Homo sapiens: one gene and its partners. The protein of the gene in region 1 purifies or fractionates together with the protein of each later gene. This does not show direct contact. Each region holds a gene or a part of one and is shown in the gene's direction. Other genes may lie near its edges.

What was found.
Region 2: the proteins of UQCRFS1 (region 1) and GFM1 purify together in Homo sapiens (co-immunoprecipitation; 2 studies listed by BioGRID and IntAct, with this or other methods). This does not show direct contact.
Region 3: the proteins of UQCRFS1 (region 1) and PNPT1 purify together in Homo sapiens (co-immunoprecipitation; 2 studies listed by BioGRID and IntAct, with this or other methods). This does not show direct contact.

Annotation. Positions count from the first base shown.
Region 1 is NC_000019.10:29,204,807-29,210,171, reverse strand, and holds the end of UQCRFS1 (cytochrome b-c1 complex subunit Rieske, mitochondrial), read left to right. Parts: intron 1-2,013; coding exon 2,014-2,624; 3' UTR 2,625-4,852; downstream 4,853-5,365.
Region 2 is NC_000003.12:158,689,498-158,696,085, forward strand, and holds the end of GFM1 (elongation factor G, mitochondrial), read left to right. Parts: intron 1-665; coding exon 666-826; intron 827-1,641; coding exon 1,642-1,695; intron 1,696-1,838; coding exon 1,839-1,970; 3' UTR 1,971-6,084; downstream 6,085-6,588. UniProt on the Homo sapiens protein: Mitochondrial GTPase that catalyzes the GTP-dependent ribosomal translocation step during translation elongation.
Region 3 is NC_000002.12:55,690,841-55,698,162, reverse strand, and holds the start of PNPT1 (polyribonucleotide nucleotidyltransferase 1, mitochondrial precursor), read left to right. Parts: upstream 1-4,318; 5' UTR 4,319-4,339; coding exon 4,340-4,500; intron 4,501-7,322. UniProt on the Homo sapiens protein: RNA-binding protein implicated in numerous RNA metabolic processes. Catalyzes the phosphorolysis of single-stranded polyribonucleotides processively in the 3'-to-5' direction. Mitochondrial intermembrane factor with RNA-processing exoribonulease activity.

The DNA of each region.
Region 1 (5,365 bases):
GAGGAAGGTTGTACTATTTTCATGCAGATTTCCAAGGCGCATTGGAGCTCAACCTTAAAATAAAACTTGTTTTGTTAAAATTCCTTAAATTTTCTCCTTTAAGTATTTGATTTTGCTTTAGGTTAGAATTAAATCTAGCATCTTACTGAAAGTCAGACCTAATGCAGCTCATGTAAATATTTGGAGAATGATTTTTGCAACAGGGCAGTTTAATTTCCGAAAGGATTCTTGGTGGTGTAGCCTACTAAAGTGTAACCAGCTAGATAGAGTGGGAGGAGACTTTTGCCACCAAATCTCTGAATGAGAAGGGCAAAGCCATTTTATTGAGTTTTCTTGTACATTTCCTTGTATACTGTTAAGGGTTGTGGATACTGTTTTTAATGTAGAAGTATGAACTTTTTATTCCTTTATCTTTTAGGGAGGAAGCTCATCTTTTCTGTAATCCCAGGTAGTGCTAGGAGCAAGTAATTTATGCTTAATTCCAAATGCCAGTATATACTGGCAGGTTAGCATTTATTTGTTAGAGTAGTAGTATAGGATGTAATGTCACTTTGACTCCACAGATTCTGGGATGTGAGTCTCAAGTTGCCATTATCTGTGTCCTGGTCTTCTCCAGGAAATGATTTAGTCAGAAAAGCACATAGAGTGATTTTGGTAGGTTTCATTATTGTTTGAATACTTCTGGCTTCCATAAAGTTATTGACCTTGAGAATCATGTGAAAAGCAGTTCAGGTATTCCATATTGTAATGTTTGACTACTCAAGGAAGTACAGTATATTAGGATGATATCCTAGTAGAGCAAGGTAGAATTGCAGTTTATTACAATAAAAATGCATCATAAAAGATCTTTATTTTGGATACACATTTTCTAAAAGAGGAATTTTTAGTGTCCCCTTTTTTAAAAAGGAAACTTTGTGGCAAATTTCTTAAGATGAATATACAATTTGCAAAGAGGTTTGCTTCCTGAAACATACCTAAAAGTGGTACTAGGTAAAATTTTTTTTTGGTCAGATATTTAAAAATAGTATTGGAGAGAGGGATGTAACTGTGTCTTGTTTTTGTTTTTTAAACTACCAAAGAAACTCCTTGCTCCCAAAGTACTACATAGTAATTATTTGTTTAACATTCATTTGAGCTCTTTTATGGCCTAGACTAGAAGTGCCCCAGTTGAGAGAACTACAGCAGTGAAAAGGGAAGATAATACCCCTACTTTTACAGTAACTATTGCCCTTTACTGAAGAGGGGGAGATATGAAAATTTTGCCCTTTTTTTCCCTTGCTAAATTGAAATAATTAGTTCTTTTGCAGTTTTCATTTTATTTTGAGAGCTCTGATAAGGATGTCCTTCTCTGCCTATTAGTGGTTTTAAGTTAAAGTAATACTAATTTATACACTAGAGTATAAAATAGAAACGCTAATTTTTCTGCAGCAGAGTTATACAGTTCACAGAATGTTTATTATATCATTATTATTTTATGAATTAACAGTTTTTTCCGAGAACATAGATTGGACTATAAGGGGCAGACATTTGCCTTAATAAGGTGATCACACGTCAACTTACTGTGTGGACTAGATGAGTTTTAGGGTGTCCTTCTAATCCAGAGAGTATGGGAGGTATTTAGCATGATTTATATAGTAAGTCTTGGCAGTTGAATTTTCGGAAACTTTGAGTTATTACTGTTTATTTTGCTGTTTAACGTTTTTAGCATGATGCACTGAGGTGTTGTGAATCCTGAATCAGCAATGTTCAACCAACTAGGGGGAGCTCAATTTACAAATAGTATCTTGTGATTTCATACCAGTATGATAGGTGGTGGTTCACTTCATTTCATTTTTAAGATTTTATATGCTAGCACCGCCAATTTGACTATTTCTGAGACCCAGTGAGTGCCATATTTCACATTTTTAGAATTTGATTTTTTACCTGTGAATCCATAAAGGGCTATTTCCTGATATATACTCCCTTCGGGATACTCATCTAATTGTGTTTTTTAACCTTCTGTTTGTCTTGCAGTCCCTGCTTCTGTTTGTTATTCCCACACAGACATCAAGGTGCCTGACTTCTCTGAATACCGCCGCCTTGAAGTTTTAGATAGTACGAAGTCTTCAAGAGAAAGCAGCGAGGCTAGGAAAGGTTTCTCCTATTTGGTAACTGGAGTAACTACTGTGGGTGTCGCATATGCTGCCAAGAATGCCGTCACCCAGTTCGTTTCCAGCATGAGTGCTTCTGCTGATGTGTTGGCCCTGGCGAAAATCGAAATCAAGTTATCCGATATTCCAGAAGGCAAGAACATGGCTTTCAAATGGAGAGGCAAACCCCTGTTTGTGCGTCATAGAACCCAGAAGGAAATTGAGCAGGAAGCTGCAGTTGAATTATCACAGTTGAGGGACCCACAGCATGATCTAGATCGAGTAAAGAAACCTGAATGGGTTATCCTGATAGGTGTTTGCACTCATCTTGGCTGTGTACCCATTGCAAATGCAGGAGATTTTGGTGGTTATTACTGCCCTTGCCATGGGTCACACTATGATGCATCTGGCAGGATCAGATTGGGTCCTGCTCCTCTCAACCTTGAAGTCCCCACGTATGAGTTCACCAGTGACGATATGGTGATTGTTGGTTAAGAGACTTGGACTCAAGTCATAGGCTTCTTTCAGTCTTTATGTCACCTCAGGAGACTTATTTGAGAGGAAGCCTTCTGTACTTGAAGTTGATTTGAAATATGTAAGAATTGATGATGTATTTGCAAACATTAATGTGAAATAAATTGAATTTAATGTTGAATACTTTCAGGCATTCACTTAATAAAGACACTGTTAAGCACTGTTATGCTCAGTCATACACGCGAAAGGTACAATGTCTTTTAGCTAATTCTAATTAAAAATTACAGACTGGTGTACAAGATACTTGTGAAATCTGTAACTGACTTTATTTTCTTGCCCAAATATTTGCTTCCTGCTTTGCGTCAGGGACGCAGATTCTGCACGGTCATTGTTGGGATGAAGTAAAATTAACGGGTCATCTAAGTGTCTATGGCATTGACAGAAACAGTAGTATCTAGGTATTCCTTATTTACCGGACTTGGTAAGAGTCCTGGCTATGCATTTCCTCCCTACTGTGTAAGCCGTGTGATAATCTCAACACTAATCTGTGGGAAAGAGTCCTGAATGAGGCATTAGTAGCTCTGAGGGTTTATCTTCACGTCTGGTCTGCTGGTTTTTCTCCTTAAGTGACAGGCCAGGAAATTTTATTAGTCCCTTATGAGTGTAAATTAGTACTTAATCCTTTAGTCTTAATAGGCAGTGATGGGATATTACCTGAGAGAAACTTTCCAAAATGAGAGTGCTCTGCCATTTCGTTCATTTTGTGTGTGGTTCATCATGTCCCCAAAGTTCCTGCATCCACTCTATCAGGAGGCAGAAAGGGAGCATCTGAGACCTAATACTGCCTGCATGCAGAAGTGGTCCTGCTGGGTTTGTTTCTGTAGTGATGACACTTTGAATGTTTTTTCCTGTTGGGTTTACAGTCACTCAGCACTTTTCACTGTAAGATGGTGTGGAACCAGACGCAGAGCACATCGGAATTCACATCCTATTCTGCCTCCAATTACACAGGTGAAACAAGACTAAGGTCCATTTTCCCCTGGGAGTTGGGAGTGGGCTTTGTCCTTTGAGAATCACAGTCACTTTTTGATGTGTTTGTCTTTGCTGTTTAGAGGTGGACCAGTCGTGCTTTACTGAGTCTACCTGATAATCTCATGTACACTTTTTTAAAATGGCAAAAATGGTTAGGTTGGGTCTGCCCAAAGGGAACTGACCATCCAGGATTCCAGCCTTTGATGTTAATAGCTAGGTGTTGACAGAAAAAAGAAAATGTCAAACTTTCTATGCTTATGAGTAGATACTAGTCTTTGCTTCATTTTTACCATTCTAGAAATGAAATTAGCATGTGTGATAATTGGTGGGACACAGAAGTATTTTATATTCTGTGTCTCTAGATAGTGGAGGCACTCTTCGGATTGGGGGTTGGAGGAAGGGTTGGTGGCAGAGTTGGAATGTGAAACATTGAGTTGTGAGGGGAACACAGGTCCACACACTAAAAAACCTGTGCTGCCAAAAATGTCAACAGCACCCCCTCCCTATAGAGAAATACTGATAACCTATATCACCTCCCACCCTGAAGTGATACCTTGAAATTCTACATGGCAGTGGAGGACAGAAGTAGGAAGTTTGCAGGTCTCTAGGTACTCACTTAGTGCCGGAATTGCTATATTTGGTGGCTGCTTACTTCATCTTTCATATTTAGAGTTTGATGGTGGGATGCTGTTAAATTGTAGTAGACCATTTAGTTTTTAAAGAAGGCTTTGTTCCACAAGTGACAGGACAAGTCAAGTCACTTCATGCTGTTTTGCTGAATGGATACGGCAGACCTGTGTTAACATTTTTACCATTCTGTGAAAACAAAATCCTAGATAGTAGGAGAAAATTACTTACAGAATAAACCTGACCAGCTAGCACCCTGACATCAGATCATTAACCTACTGCATTTTATTGGGGATAATTCTTGGGACAATCTTGAGAGCCAAGTGTTTTCATTATGCTTTAAAAAGTGTTATAAAAATGGCCTTTTTGAAAATGTTGCATTATTTGTTAAAGATAACATCAAATTTTCTTTGGTCTTTCTGAGCATACCTTTGTAAAAACTTTGACTCAATCTGAGTGTATAGAGGGCATTTGTCCTGACTGGATCAAAATGTGCTTTAGTACCCTCATTTTTCTAAACTGTAGGAACATACTATTTAAATATCAGAAGTAATTCTTCATTCTCACAGTACTAAATTTCATTTTCTGTATTTTCATGTCGTTTGAATTTCATTGCATTTTGTATATTAACCCAAAATAATGTTTATATTTTATGGACTGTTATCCTTAGCCCACTGTTCTAACACACTTTATCACCACCTATTTGCTGGTGACTCCCCACAACCACTTCCCTGAGTTTCATATTCATGTGCTTACTGGGCATATATGTTTGGATGTCCTGTTGACACCTTAAACTCAAACTGTCTGAAAGGAAAAGATGTCATCTCTGTTTCCAATGAACCAGCTTCTCTATTTTAGTCAGTTGCCTCTCCATCGACCTTGTTAACTACCCGCCAGGCGAAAAACCTGTTAGTTTTCCCTGCCTCCTTTCCATCCATTATCTCCTCTCCACTTTGCCCCAAATCAGTCCCCTAGTTCTGCCAATCTACTCTTTGTTTTTCTTTTTTTTTGAGATGGAGTCTCAGTGTTGCCCAGGCTGCAGTGCAATGGCAAGATCTTGGCTCACTGCAACCTCCACCTCCCAGGTTCAAGTGATTCTCCTG
Region 2 (6,588 bases), on another chromosome or scaffold:
TCCTGCCCTGTGACAAAAATTATTTTCTTATAATTAAAAATAACTGCCTGCCAGGGACCACAAGAAAGAATGGGTTTATCCAGCCTGGCCAACATGTCGAAAGCCTGTGTCTACTAAAAATACAAAAATTAGTGGTAGCAGATACCTGTAATCCCAGCTACTCGGAGGCTGAGGCAGGAGAATTGCTTGAACCTGGGAGACAGAGTTGCATTGAGCCGAGATTGCCCCATTGTAATCTAGCTTGGGTGACAAAAAAAAAAAAAAAAGAAAGAATGGGTTTACCTTGGTCAAATTTGTAACAGTTATTATCTTTAACCCTGACGATTTTCAGAGAGAATAAATAACTCAGCTGGATAATTTAGATGGTAAAGGACTTCATCAGATGTTGTTTTAAGACCCTTTTGTATTATTCTCTGCTATTTAATGAGTTTTAAGGATAAAAATATGATAATGGAAATACCAATATTAAAATTAAATGTTGGAATTTCCATTTAGAAGAGTGACTGTTATTACTACAGGAAAAATGAGTCTAGGTCGAATATTTTAACCTTGCCGTTTGTGTTTGTACCTTTGGGAAAGCATCATTTTTCTCCCTTTTTTATATCTGGACAGAAGAGTTGTAGTTTGTATGAAGACTAATGAACTTTTTTTTTTTTTTAACCCAGCCTTGGCAAATGCAACATTATGTATTCTTGAACCTATTATGGCTGTGGAAGTTGTAGCTCCAAATGAATTTCAGGGACAAGTAATTGCAGGAATTAACCGACGCCATGGGGTAATCACTGGGCAAGATGGAGTTGAGGACTATTTTACACTGTATGCAGATGTAAGTAGTCTTGGTCATTGGCAGTCCTGCTTTTATTAACCATAGAAGGAAATCCAGGTTAGCTTTTGTTTTTGCAAATGGACACATTTCCTTGCTGAATTTGTGGCTTTATACATGTGGCATTTTCTGTAATTTGCTATTAAAGCAACTCTTAAGTGCAGAAGTTAAAAATAAGATTTATTTTATCTTGACCTTTTGTGAATGTGTCATTTTCTTAGATGTATATTATCTCTCTTTCTTGAATAAGCACAGATGGACAAATTAAAAAGAAAAGGAAAAATAAAATAAGATGTATATTATCTCTCTCATTTTAGCTTTATTTGCATAATTACTTTATTGTTATCTTTAATTTATCCCTCTTAATTACCTTGCCTGTACCTTTCTTGACTTAAATCTCAAGGGAGAAGGTGTTTATTACATTTCATAAGGCCTCCTGGAAAACACTACTCTCAGCATATCATTAAGGTGTCCAAAGGAAAGTCGTATTCACATTTTCTCAGAAGAAGCACTTCTGAGTGCTTGAGCTGGGGCTACAGAGCGGAGTGGGGATGAGGAGGGAAGGCTGTCAATGGTGTTCACTCCACGAAGTGGAAAGATTTGGTTTCTGGTTGCGACTGTCAAATGAAATAATTTTCAAATAGGATTTCCACTTGGAATAAAACAGAAATGTTTCTCTTTGGCTTTTAATTATTTTAAACTAAGAGTAGTGAGCAGAAATCTTAATCTAAAGGAATTAAATGGCTAAAATGCGTCTGTATTTTTCTCAAATATTTTCCAATAAGCAGTGCTAAAATATCTACTATGTTTGTTTTCAGGTCCCTCTAAATGATATGTTTGGTTATTCCACTGAACTTAGGTCATGCACAGAGGTAGGCAAATTTAAACTTACCCTTCAAAAGACCACCCTACAGAATGATCATATTATAAAATCTTGACCTTGTATGACTTTTACTTGATAGTTTAAAAAACAAACAAACAAACAAAAAACCCTCTCTTTTTTTTAAATCCCTAGGGAAAGGGAGAATACACAATGGAGTATAGCAGGTATCAGCCATGTTTACCATCCACACAAGAAGACGTCATTAATAAGTATTTGGAAGCTACAGGTCAACTTCCTGTTAAAAAAGGAAAAGCCAAGAACTAACTTTGCTTACTGTGAGTTGACTGACTCTAATTGAATCTGCGTGGTTTTGATACTTTGATGGATTCCAGTGGAATAAATTCAGGCTGCTGAAACAAGAAATTCTGAGCCCAGGAAGCGGGCTCTTCTTTCTTCAAAAGAAGCCCTTCTTGTTCATATTCAGGAGCTTCTGTTATATTCAAAGGTAATTCTATGTCTATCTCAACTCTATTGATTGGTTTTATAGTTCATTGAAAATCCTCAAATAAAATATAATTATTACTGAAATATGTTTAATATTTAAGGGGAAAAGAGACTAATTTCAGTTATACTTTTAAGCTTAGAATGTATGTTCATTTCCAAATTTTGTATCATAAGAGTTTTCAACATAGAGAAAAGCTGAAAAAATGCAAAGAATAACCACATACTTTCCATCTACCTTCCTTTGTTAACGGGTTGTTTATCATATAATAATTTGTTTTGTCATATTTGCTTTCACTGTCTATTATCTGTTTAAGTCTCATAACTCTATTTTTAGTTTGCTGAAGACTTGAAAGTGAATCGCATATATCATGACACTTCTTGGAGTGTCATTAATGGGCAGGCTTTTCTGTTGAAGAGTGGATTCCGTATGTTCTTCATAGAGAGTGTTTTTCAGATTCTTCATTGGGATATTAAAATATTAGCCAAATTTCTCTCTGTTTTATATATGTCTGTTTATTTCAGTTTGTGGTTTCTGCAAATTTGTAACTGCCTCTGTTTTAGGAGTATAAGTATTACTTCCTTGTGGTCTATTGTGAAGTAAAAAGTAGACCCTTGCATATACTATTCTTGTTTGTGTTCATCTTAATGTTTTTGTACAGCTAAATCAAATGTAATTTATAGAGTTAGTTTCATCAACCTAATGAATGCTAGTTAAATTTGAATTCCTTGGAATTTATCGTATATTGTATTCACTGAGATTATGAAGGGACAAATGTTAATCTTTTGTTTCCAGAAAAAGTTGGGCTTTCCCAAGCAGTTCTATTACCCGGTTCAGAATTGCTTCATCCAAAAATCATCTGATGGTATAGATGGATCCTAGTCCTTTTCATTACCTGATGGTAGAAATAAAATAATTGATTTTAAATTCCTTTGCTTTTCTTGACTTATAGACGTGGCTTTATACTTTAAGGTTTCTAGGGGAAAAAGATCTTTAAAAAGTATTGAGCACATGTTTTCAAGGCATTTGCTAAATACTTTTTTTTTTTTAATTTTTATTTTTTTGTGGTAGGGTCTCACTCTATCCCCCAGGCTGGAATGCAGAGGGACTATCTCTGCTCACTACAACCTCTGCTTCCTGGGTTCAAGCAATTATCCCATCTCAGCTGCCTAAGTAGGTGGGACTACAGGTGTGCGCCACCACTCCCTGCTAATTTTTTGCATTTTTTGAAGAGATAGGGTTTTGCCATATTGCCCAGGCTGGTCTCAAACTCCTGGGCTCAAGCTCTCTGCCTGCCCCAGCCTCCCAAAGTGCTGGGATTATGGGCATGAACCACCATGCCTGGCTGCTAAATACTTTAAATGCATTGTATAATTTCATTCTCACAACCCCGAGAGTAAGTACTATTATTATGTCCATTTTGTAATAGAAGAAGCACAGATAAGGTAAATAACTTTAATGAGACCACAAAACCTAAGTTTTTTAATTGATACTTTAATTACAATTATTCACCAAGTGCATTTCCCCCATGAATGTCTGTTGCTACAGTAGCATCAGGTCTGAAAAAATGTGGTTGCTTTGGCATTTCCTCAGCATCTTGTGACATTCACAATAACTTTGAATATTGTTCCTAATGAGGAAATACATTCTGTGTACCTTCATGGAATTTAGCATGATTCCTATGGCTATTGAGAATAGTCACAACTACTGGAACTAAACTGGATAAATAAGTAAAAAACTTACTTATTTTTAATTTGTAAAACATCCTGGTTATAATGTTACAGTGTTAGAAAAGGTCCTAGATATTTAATCCAACACCAGCATTTCATAGGTAATGATTCAGGCCTAGCTGGTGGGAGTAATTAGAATAGGTTCACAAATGGACAGATCAGGACTAGAACCCACATCTCTTTCTAAGTCATTAGTTATAGTTGGCAAAGATCACATACCAACCAAAGTCTGTAGCATGGAAAAAAATTAATGAGAATATTCATAGGTGAGGGTTGTTTATACTACTATCAAGAAGGATAATTGTTGGCTAATTCAAATATTACATCCTTGTATTGGACAACAGTAGCAGCACTAGGTAGTATTGTACTGATTCCCAACCCTCACTGTACTTTAAAAATCACTGGGGGAGCCTTAAAAAGAAATACCTAGGCCTACACCCAGATATTTAGATTATTTGGCTGGATCAAGATAAAAACTTTTTTGGGTGATTCTAATATGCAGACAAAGTTAAAGACCGCTGAAATATTGCCTGCACTGCGCTTAAGCCCAAGACATGAAATGAAAAATCTGTGAAATTCAGGAGTGTCATATTGTATTCTTTTGTGTGATATTAGAGTTTGGTTTTTTTGTTTAACAACTGTTTTTTTTTTTAAGAGATGGGGTCTTCTAAGACAAAAACCATCTGACTCAGCAATACCATTACTATATACCCAAAGGAACGTAAATCATTCTATTATAAAGACACATGCATGCACACATTCATTGCAGAACTGTTCATAATGGCAAAGATATGGAATCAACCTAAATGCCTATCACTGATAGACTGGATAAAGAAAATGTGGTACATACACATTGTGGAATACTATGCAGCCATAAAAAAAGAATGAGATCAAGTCCTTTGCAGGGACATAGATGGAGCTGGAAGCCATTATCCTCATCAAACTAACATAGGAAAAGAAAACCAAATACTGCATGTTCTCACTTATAAGTGGGAGCTAAATAATGAGAACACATGGACACACAGAGGGGAACAACACACACTGGGGCCTATTGGAGGATGGAGGGTGGGTGGAGGGAGAGGATCAGGAAAAATAACTAATGGGTACTAGGCTTAATACCTTGATGATGAAATAATCTGTACAACAAACCCCCAGGACACAAGTTTAGCTATGTAACAAGCCTGCACATCAACCCCTGAACTTAAAGAGATGGGGTCTCGCTGTGTTTCCCAGGCTGCTCACAAATTCATGAGCTCAAGCAGTCCTCTGGCCTCAGCCTCTGGAGTAGCTGGGACAAGAGGCACACACCACCATGCCTGGCTTGATAACTTTACCTTAAAAAAAAAAGTGTTCCTATTTATATAAGCTTCCAACTGACTTTCAAAAGAACTTGTTCAACTTCTAAAAATTCGTAATTCAGGTAGGAAGAAAATGAAAGTATGAATAAAATAAAATGGAATGTAGACAAAATCCCTGGTATTATTTTATATGTCTTAAGAAAGTTCTAAAGGTATTAGGAAAATGAATGTCAAGCTGTATGTAATTGTAATTAGCTAAGAGTGATTCAGAATAATTTAGACTGTTAATGAAAAGAGGACATAGGGAATAGTTTTTCATTTTATGCCAAGTGATTTTTCTGTTTTATTAGCTAGTGAAACCAATGTTGGTAAAATTAAGTTAACAATTTTAGAGTTTGTGCTAGAAAAGATATTCTGAGGCCGGATGTGGTGGCTCACGCCTGTAATTCCAGCACTTTGGGAGGCCAAGGTGGGTGGATAACCTGAGGTCAGGAGTTCGAGACCACCCTGGCCAACACGGTGAAACCCCGTCTCTACTATAAATACAAAAATCGTCCGGGCGGGGTGGCTCACGCCTGTAGCCCCAGCTGCTCAGGAGGCTGAGGCAGGAGGGTCGCTTGAACCCGGAAGGCGGAGGCTATAGTGAGCTGAGATGGCACCACTGCACTCCAGCACTCCAGCACTCCAGCCTAGGCAACAGAGTGAGACTCTGTCTCAAAAAAAAAAGAAAAAAAAGAAAAGATGTTCTGATGGTGATACTGATAAATTTTTAGTTGGTTTAACTTTTTGGGTTTTGTAAATTAATAAATTAGGTAATTGTGTTTGTATATTATTTGTATGTATAGAATTCCCCCTCATAATCTATTGTACTGTAATAAATCTGCTAAAAGGTTACCTTAGAAACATTACCTGGTTGGATTATGGATGTGTTTGTGAGCCTAATCTCAGTAATGAAAAATGCCTTTAGTGGCTCATGCCTGTAATTCCAACACTTTGGGAGGCCGAGGTGGGAGGATCCCTTTAGCCTAGGAGTTTGAGACCAGCCTGGGCAACATAATCAGCTGGTGTGGGACATCCTGGGATAGATAACCATTTCCTTCCAAAGTCAAGATAGCTGCCCAGTGAAGATCAAACAAACAAACAAAAAAAGGAAAAAAGAAAAATGCATTTATGGGGATGAGGACTTTGAGAAAGCTCCGACTCTAGAAAGCTGAAACACCAAGTAAATGCCCTTTTCTAGTCCTTAATGTGACGCTAAAAGATTGATTAAATATCATAGGACATTGAATATACTGTTGTAATGCTCTTAGGACTTTTTTTGAAGATCATTTGGGGAACTTCAGTTACAGAAATTTATCACTTGATTTTGGCATAATTTAATCATTGTGGATTATTTCTGATAATTTACAAGG
Region 3 (7,322 bases), on another chromosome or scaffold:
TTTAACCACTATGCAATACCTATTCCCACATTCACTTGCACAGATGAATTAATAACTACATAAATACATTAATAAAGTGGAAGGACAGACATAGATTGTATCCATAAGTCTGCCTAGGGAAGTAAAGAGGATAGTACTGAAGACTGAGTTTGTTTGATTGATGCATGTGAGGAGTGTGTGCCAAGCACAGAGAATCATACCTGCAAAGCCACAGATGCAGGAGAAGTATTGCAAGGGAACAAGCAGTTCAGTTTACTTGGAGTATAAAGTGAAAAGAGGAAGGGAAGGAAACAGGGTAGTAAGAAAAAGTTGATGAGGCCAATAGGAAAGGAAAAGCTTATAGTCTATACAAAGCAGTTTAAATTTTATCCTTAAAGATTTAGGAAGCCACTGAAAAAATTTAATCAGGATGGAGACACAATTCTATTTGTGATTGAGAAAGAAGATCCTTCTGGTAGCGGTGTAGCACAGACTTTCTTAAAGTTGAGTAGGCTACATTCTTTCAAGAGAAGAATTTTTTCCTGAACACTTCAGGGACTGCTGATACTTTTAATTATAATGTTACTATATAACAAAATATAACTTCCATATTGTTACAGCTTTTAGTCATAAAAGCAATATAAATGTATATCCTGTCTAAACTAAACTACAAACTAAATTAAAATATAGTTAAAGGGCCGGGCTCTGTGGCTCACGCCTGTAATCCCAGCATTTTGTGAGGCCAAGGCAGGCAGATCACCTGAGGGTGGGAGTTGGAGATCAGCCTGGCCAACATGGTGAAACCCTGTCTCTATTAAAAGTACAAAAATTAGCTGGGCGCGGTGGCGCACGTCTGTAGTCCCAGCTACTTGGGAGGCTGAGGTAGGAGAATTGCTTGAACCCAGGAGGTGGAGGTTGCAGTGAGCCAAGATTGTGCCACTGCACTCCAGCTTGGGCAACAGAGCAAGACTCCATCTCAAAAAAAAAAAAAGTAGTTAAGCATAATTTAATGCAATGGTGTTTTACTTAACGTAGTTGCTTATTCAGAACATGCAGTGGTATTAACTGTTTTGATGCAGGTTCATCAGAGTTTGAAGAAAAGGGAAAAGGAGATCTGAGAAGTTGCTGGTGGATTTAAGTTGGATCATTTTTAATGTCCTTCAGCAGTCATAGGTAAATAAATCCCTTTTAAATTATATTTTGGCTGTTGAACTACACTTGACATAACTCTACTTGCAGAATAACATCTCAGACTGAACCTCACGGATTATAGCTTCAGTAGTAACAACTACAAGAATTTAAACTTATTATATTTTTCTTTCTACGCTAATCTAAAAATGCTTAATATAAACATATAAACGCATTCTGTATCATCTATATCTTCATAATAAAGCTCTGCTGCAAGATTTTAGTGCCTACATTTGCTTTTGAGTTTACTATCCAATTACTACTATTTGAATTATATCAGATTTGTGTGAGGAAATGGGGGTGGGGGATTCTTAATAGGTAAATGCTGCTTTCCATCACTTCTGGCTGGATAAAAGCTAACCGATTCAAGGAGTTCAAGGAGTTCTGAAGAAGAGAAAAATGTTCAGAATACCTGGAAACTGGAGGAAGAATTAAGAAAAGTCTGGATAAGCCTGGGCGCGGTGGCTCATGCCTGTAATCCCAGCACTTTGGGAGGCCGTGGCGGGTGGATTGCCTGAGGTCAGGAGTTCAAGACCAACCTGGCCAACATGATGAAACCCCATCTCTACTAAAAATCCAAAAAATTAGCCAGGCATGGTGGCAGGCACCTGTAATCCCAGCTATTTGGGAGGGCTGAGGAAGGGGAATCACTTGAACCCCGGAGGCGGAGGTTGCAGTGAGCTGAGATCACGCCACTGCACTCTAGCCTGGGCAACAAGAGCAAAACTCTGTCTTGAAAAAAACGAAAAGGCTGGATGAAAGCTAAATTTACCATTTATTGAGTGTTGACAATGTGCTAGGTACTATTATATCATCTGACACTTTTTTTTTTTTTTTTTTTTTTGAGACGGAGTCTCGCTCTGTCGCCCAGGCCGGACTGCGGACTGCAGTGGCGCAATCTCGGCTCACTGCAAGCTCCGCTTCCCGGGTTCACGCCATTCTCCTGCCTCAGCCTCCCGAGTAGCTGGGACTACAGGCGCCCGCTACCGCGCCCGGCTAATTTTTTGTATTTTTAGTAGAGACGGGGTTTCACCTTGTTAGCCAGGATGGTCTCAATCTCCTGACCTCATGATCCACCCGCCTCGGCCTCCCAAAGTGCTAGGATTACAGGCGTGAGCCACCGCGCCCGGCCGACACTTTTAATCCTTACAAAAACCCTATTAGATTCATATTACTATCTGTTTTTATGGGGAAACTGAGGCTCAGAGAGCTAGAGTCACACAACTGGTAATTAACAGAGACAAGATTGGAACCAGCTGGGACTAACTCCAAGTCTATGCTCTAAACTATTAGGCAATACTGCCCAAATGAAAATGATTACATAGTAATTAAGTATATTAACAAAAAGATGATTTTGTATTCTTACTCTATAAATCAAAAGTCATGTTCAATTGTGGCAAGTAGGTTTTCTGAGAGATTTATCTTCATGAGAGATTTCAATAGATTGGTCTGGAAAACTCTGTGGCAACTCAAGGTAAAGTAAAAGGGAGGAGACGCAAAAACTGCTTTAACACTAAAAATCTGTAAACAAAGTTAATGGTAATCCCTCTATTGGAATGGAAATCCCAAATCAGTAATAATAGCTCATGAAAGCAAGGTGTCAGAAAACTGCTTTGCCAGCAAATCATTTGTCTGTTTAGAGCTCATCATTCTTTTTTCTTTTTTAAATCATCACGGATCAACATTTTTAATTTTTTTTTTTTTTTTTTTTTTTTTTAGATGGAGTCTCGGTCTGGAGTGCAGTGGCGCGATCTCGGCTCACTGCAACCTCCGCCTCCTGGATTCAAGCGATTCTCATGCCTCAGCCTCTGGAGTAGCTGGGATTACAGGCACGCGCCACCACACCGAGCTAATTTTTGTATTTTTAGTAGAGACGCGGTTTCAGCATGTTGGCCAGGATGCCCTGGGTCTCTTGACCTCGTGATCCACCCGCCTCTGCCTCCCAGCGTGCTGGGATTACAGGCATGAGCCACTGCGCCCGGACTTTTTTTTTTTTTTTTTTTTTTTTTTTTTTTGAGACCGAGTTTCACTCTTGTTGCAATGACGCGATCTCGGCTCACTGCAACCTCCGCCTCCCGGGTTCAAGCGATTCCCCTGCCTCAGCCTCCCGAGTAGCTGGGATTACAGGCATAAGCCACCATGCCCGGCTAGTTTTGTATTTTTAGTAGAGACGGGGTTTCTCTGTGTTGGTCAGGCTGGTCTCGAACTCAGGTGATCCGCCCGCCTCGGCCTCCCAAAGTGCTGGGATTACAGGCGTGAGCCACAGCGTCCAGCCAACGTTTTTAATTCTTAAAACTGTGTTTGAATGAGTGTTGGGTTTTTGTTGTTTGGTTTTCTTTGGGGTAAGGCGGTTATCACCTTACACAAAAAATTTACATCATAATATGAAAATGCCCATTGGTTCATTCAAGGAAAAACATAAAGAATTTCTAACAGAATGGATTAATGGGGTGGAAGAAATTTATCCATTCTCTAAAAATTTTTCAAATCCCAAAAACTTTTTTTTTTCATTTTACAAAATATTTACTTCAAACAGTAGCTGGCATTTTGCATTTAAGAGTTCGACCAAAAGGGACAGAAATATAAATTGCTAATTATTAGCAATGGAAATGAAAATGAATCAGAAGTGACAATAAAGATTTCTAAAATTACAAGTCGATGAAAAATGAATTTACTGTAAATTGGTTAACACAAATCGCTGTAGTAACATATCTGCTATGTGAAATTTTTAAAATAAAAACCAGGGCGGAGAAGGGGAGAAGGAGATCTCTTTCCAAGGCCCACCACCCAAATTCTAATTCTTAGTTCACAGATCCAAATAATAATAATGTGTTGTTCTATGACTTCTAGTATTAAAAGTAAATATAAATTTACTCTGCATATTAAACATTTACATTATTCTAGGACTTCTCCTTTAAATTACGATAGTACACACACAAAAACCTTATTTATCTAATTGCCTTTCGTTGGCACATAAAGACAAAGATCGTTTGCAACATAATCGCGTTCTGATAGGTTTGACCCTCTCTAGTCTTCGTAGAAGGTGGCCAAGGTTTCCGTTACCCCGGCGTCCCTCGGGCACCGCGGAAACGAAACTCCATCAGGCTCCGCCCCACGGTCTGCGGAGTGAGCCAATCAGGGCACAGCCTGCGTTGACCGCGTGCCGGGTGTCATGGCGGCCTGCAGGTACTGCTGCTCGTGCCTCCGGCTCCGGCCCCTGAGCGATGGTCCTTTCCTTCTGCCACGGCGGGATCGGGCACTCACCCAGTTGCAAGTGCGAGCACTATGGAGTAGCGCAGGGTCTCGAGCTGTGGCCGTGGACTTAGGCAACAGGTAAGGAGTGACGTGCGTTCACTGTATTGTCATAAGGTGTCTTGTCCAGCCAGCTTGAGCGTATTCATCTCCCAGGGTAGAAACCCGGTATCCCAGCTCTATTTAATCTCTCCTTACCCTAAACCTAAATTCCAAATTTCCCTTTCCGGGTTTGGAATGTGTCTCCTCGGACCCTCCTTCCCGCGCTATGTCGTTCTCTCTGTTGGTGTGTGCCGGGCTTCTTTGCTCCATCCGACTCTGTCCGTCCACCTGACTTCCGATCTCTTTACTTTCCGGGACCACTGGGCTCTTAAGTGGGAAACATTCCACCTAGGAATAACGAGTTGACGTGGGTGAGACGAGGCCCCCCGGGATGCTGGCCCGGACCCTGGAAGCTGGGGCTCTGATGCCCCTCGAGCTGGGACACAGACCTCAGCAGAGGCTCCGGGTGGCTAGTGCACCACGGGTCCCCCACGTCCCACTCCTCGGGCTCCTTCAGCCTCCTCTTCACCAGGAGCCTACCTTGTAGAAGTTGAACACCAGGTCCAGTTCACAGACATTGTGGAAATATTCGTTTAAGACCTGGGAGAGGAAGGCAGAGATGGTAAGAGATGGACAGGGAGAGAGCCACACACGCACAGAGATGGGAACAAGGTCATCAGAAAGAGACAGCAAAAAAAAGAGACCAAGAGGGAGGCAGGGGAGAGAGAGAGACAGTGACAGGGAGAGAGGCAAGGAGACACACAGAGAGAAACAAAAGCAAAGATCGATGCAAAGAGATGGCAAAAGGTCAGGCGCTCACACCTGTAATCCCAGCACTTTGGGAGGCTAAGACGGAAGGATGACTTGAAGTTAGGAGTACAAGATATCATGTCATCCAATCTAATTGATTGCCTAAAGTGTGACCACTATGACCCTGGGTTAGGAGGAAAAGGAAAAGTCAGTTTTTTGAACGCCAGTTATATGATCCTCGCAATCTTTTTAAACCTGTCGTAAAGGTACTATTACCCTCATTTTATAGTTAAGACTACAGAGGCTCAAAAAAGGTTAGATAACTTTCTAAGAGTCTATAAAAAAGTTAGTATTATGGGACTAGGTGGTTTTTGAATTTCTGTTTTTTGCTTACAAAGCCCATACTTTTTTTTAGGGGACCGCTTTTTAAAAAAAAAGTTTGCTTTAATCGTTCTTAGAATAAATGGAATTGCTAATGCAAACTTCATATATCTAAATTTTTTACGTGTACTTTGAAAAAATTTGGACCCCAGTTCATACAAAAAGCAAAAAAATCATTTTGAATCCAGGTCTCGCACTCTAACTTTGATAAGTAGTTGACATTGAACAGGTTAATTCACCATTTTCTTGTGCAAAGTGTGGAGAGTGGATTCCATCAAGGGTCTGCAAACTTTTCTATAAAGGACCAGATAATATATATATTAGGCTTTTTGGGGTACACACTGTGTGTATGTGTTTACAAACCCTTTAGAAATATTTTAAAAAACGGCCGAGCACAGTGGCTAACACCTGTAATCCGAGCACTTTGGGAGGCTGAGGTGGGTGGATCTCCTGAGGTCAGGAGTTCGAGACCAGCCTGGCTACAATGGTGAAACCCCGTCTTTACTAAAAATACAAAATTAGCTGGGCGTGGTGGCAAGCACCTGTAATTCCATTTACCTGGGAGGCTGAGGCAGGAGAATCGGTTGAACCCAGGAGGCAGAGGTTGCAGTGGCAGAGATCGTGCCATTGCACTCCAGCCTGGGTGATAAGAGTGAAACTTTTGTCTCAAAAAAAAAAAAAAAAAAAAAAAATATATATATATATATATATATATATATATAAACATTTTTAATTGAAGAGTAATATAGAAATAGGCCACAAGCTGTAGTTTGGTCACCCCTAGACTAGGTTATCTCTAAGGCTTATTCCACTCCCAGCATTCATTAATTCTGATTTTTGAGGGAAGTGGACATCTCTTCCATTCTTCAAGGACTACACATGCTTCAAAGAAATGCCCAGAACATTTCATTCAACAGACACATACTGTGAGATAGGCATTAGATACTGAAAACAAGATGCAGCTGCTGCCCTCCATATTTTCCATAAATAATCTACTTTGACTCTTTCATTTATTAATCAACCTGTTCCTCTTTTGTAGGTAGTTCTTTTTAAACTCGTGTCATGTGTTGAAATAACTAGACTAATAAAATATCATACCTGCTGGATAAATTCTTTCATTTTTGTCTTGTTTGCCATTGGCAACATTTATTGAGTGACTACTATGTACCAGGCACATTATATTTGTTATCATATATATTCTTTACTGCATTCTGGAAGATTATATAATTATTGTAGGTGTTTTTCAGATAGTATATTTAATGCTTACAGTAACCTTGGAGGCAGGTGTTTAATTTTCATTTCAGCAAGCTTTTATTGAGCATCTACTATGTATCAAATCACTGAGGATATTCAACAGAATATGCCACAGTGGGCAAAATGCTAAGGCAGTAGCCCCGTTAGTAGAGTAGAACTGTAGCTTTCACAGTTTTTCTTCCCTGTGTTTTGGGCCCACTTCTGTCTAGTTAAAGATCCTCCACTCCCCTTCACAGAGATCACTTAGGTATTCAGAATTTACATTGGTAGACAGAATGCCAGTTCCTGGTAAGTTTTGAGAAGTACTGGTGGCATGTTACTCAGGGTTAAACAAAATTTCAAGATGTCAGATTTACATTTGCCTCATGAAACCATTACTTAATACTGATTTCAGCTATAGGTTGTTGCAGGTCTGTGATACTACACAGTGTGACTGGTTTTGAGTATCTCATTCCTTCCATCTACTCAACATACTA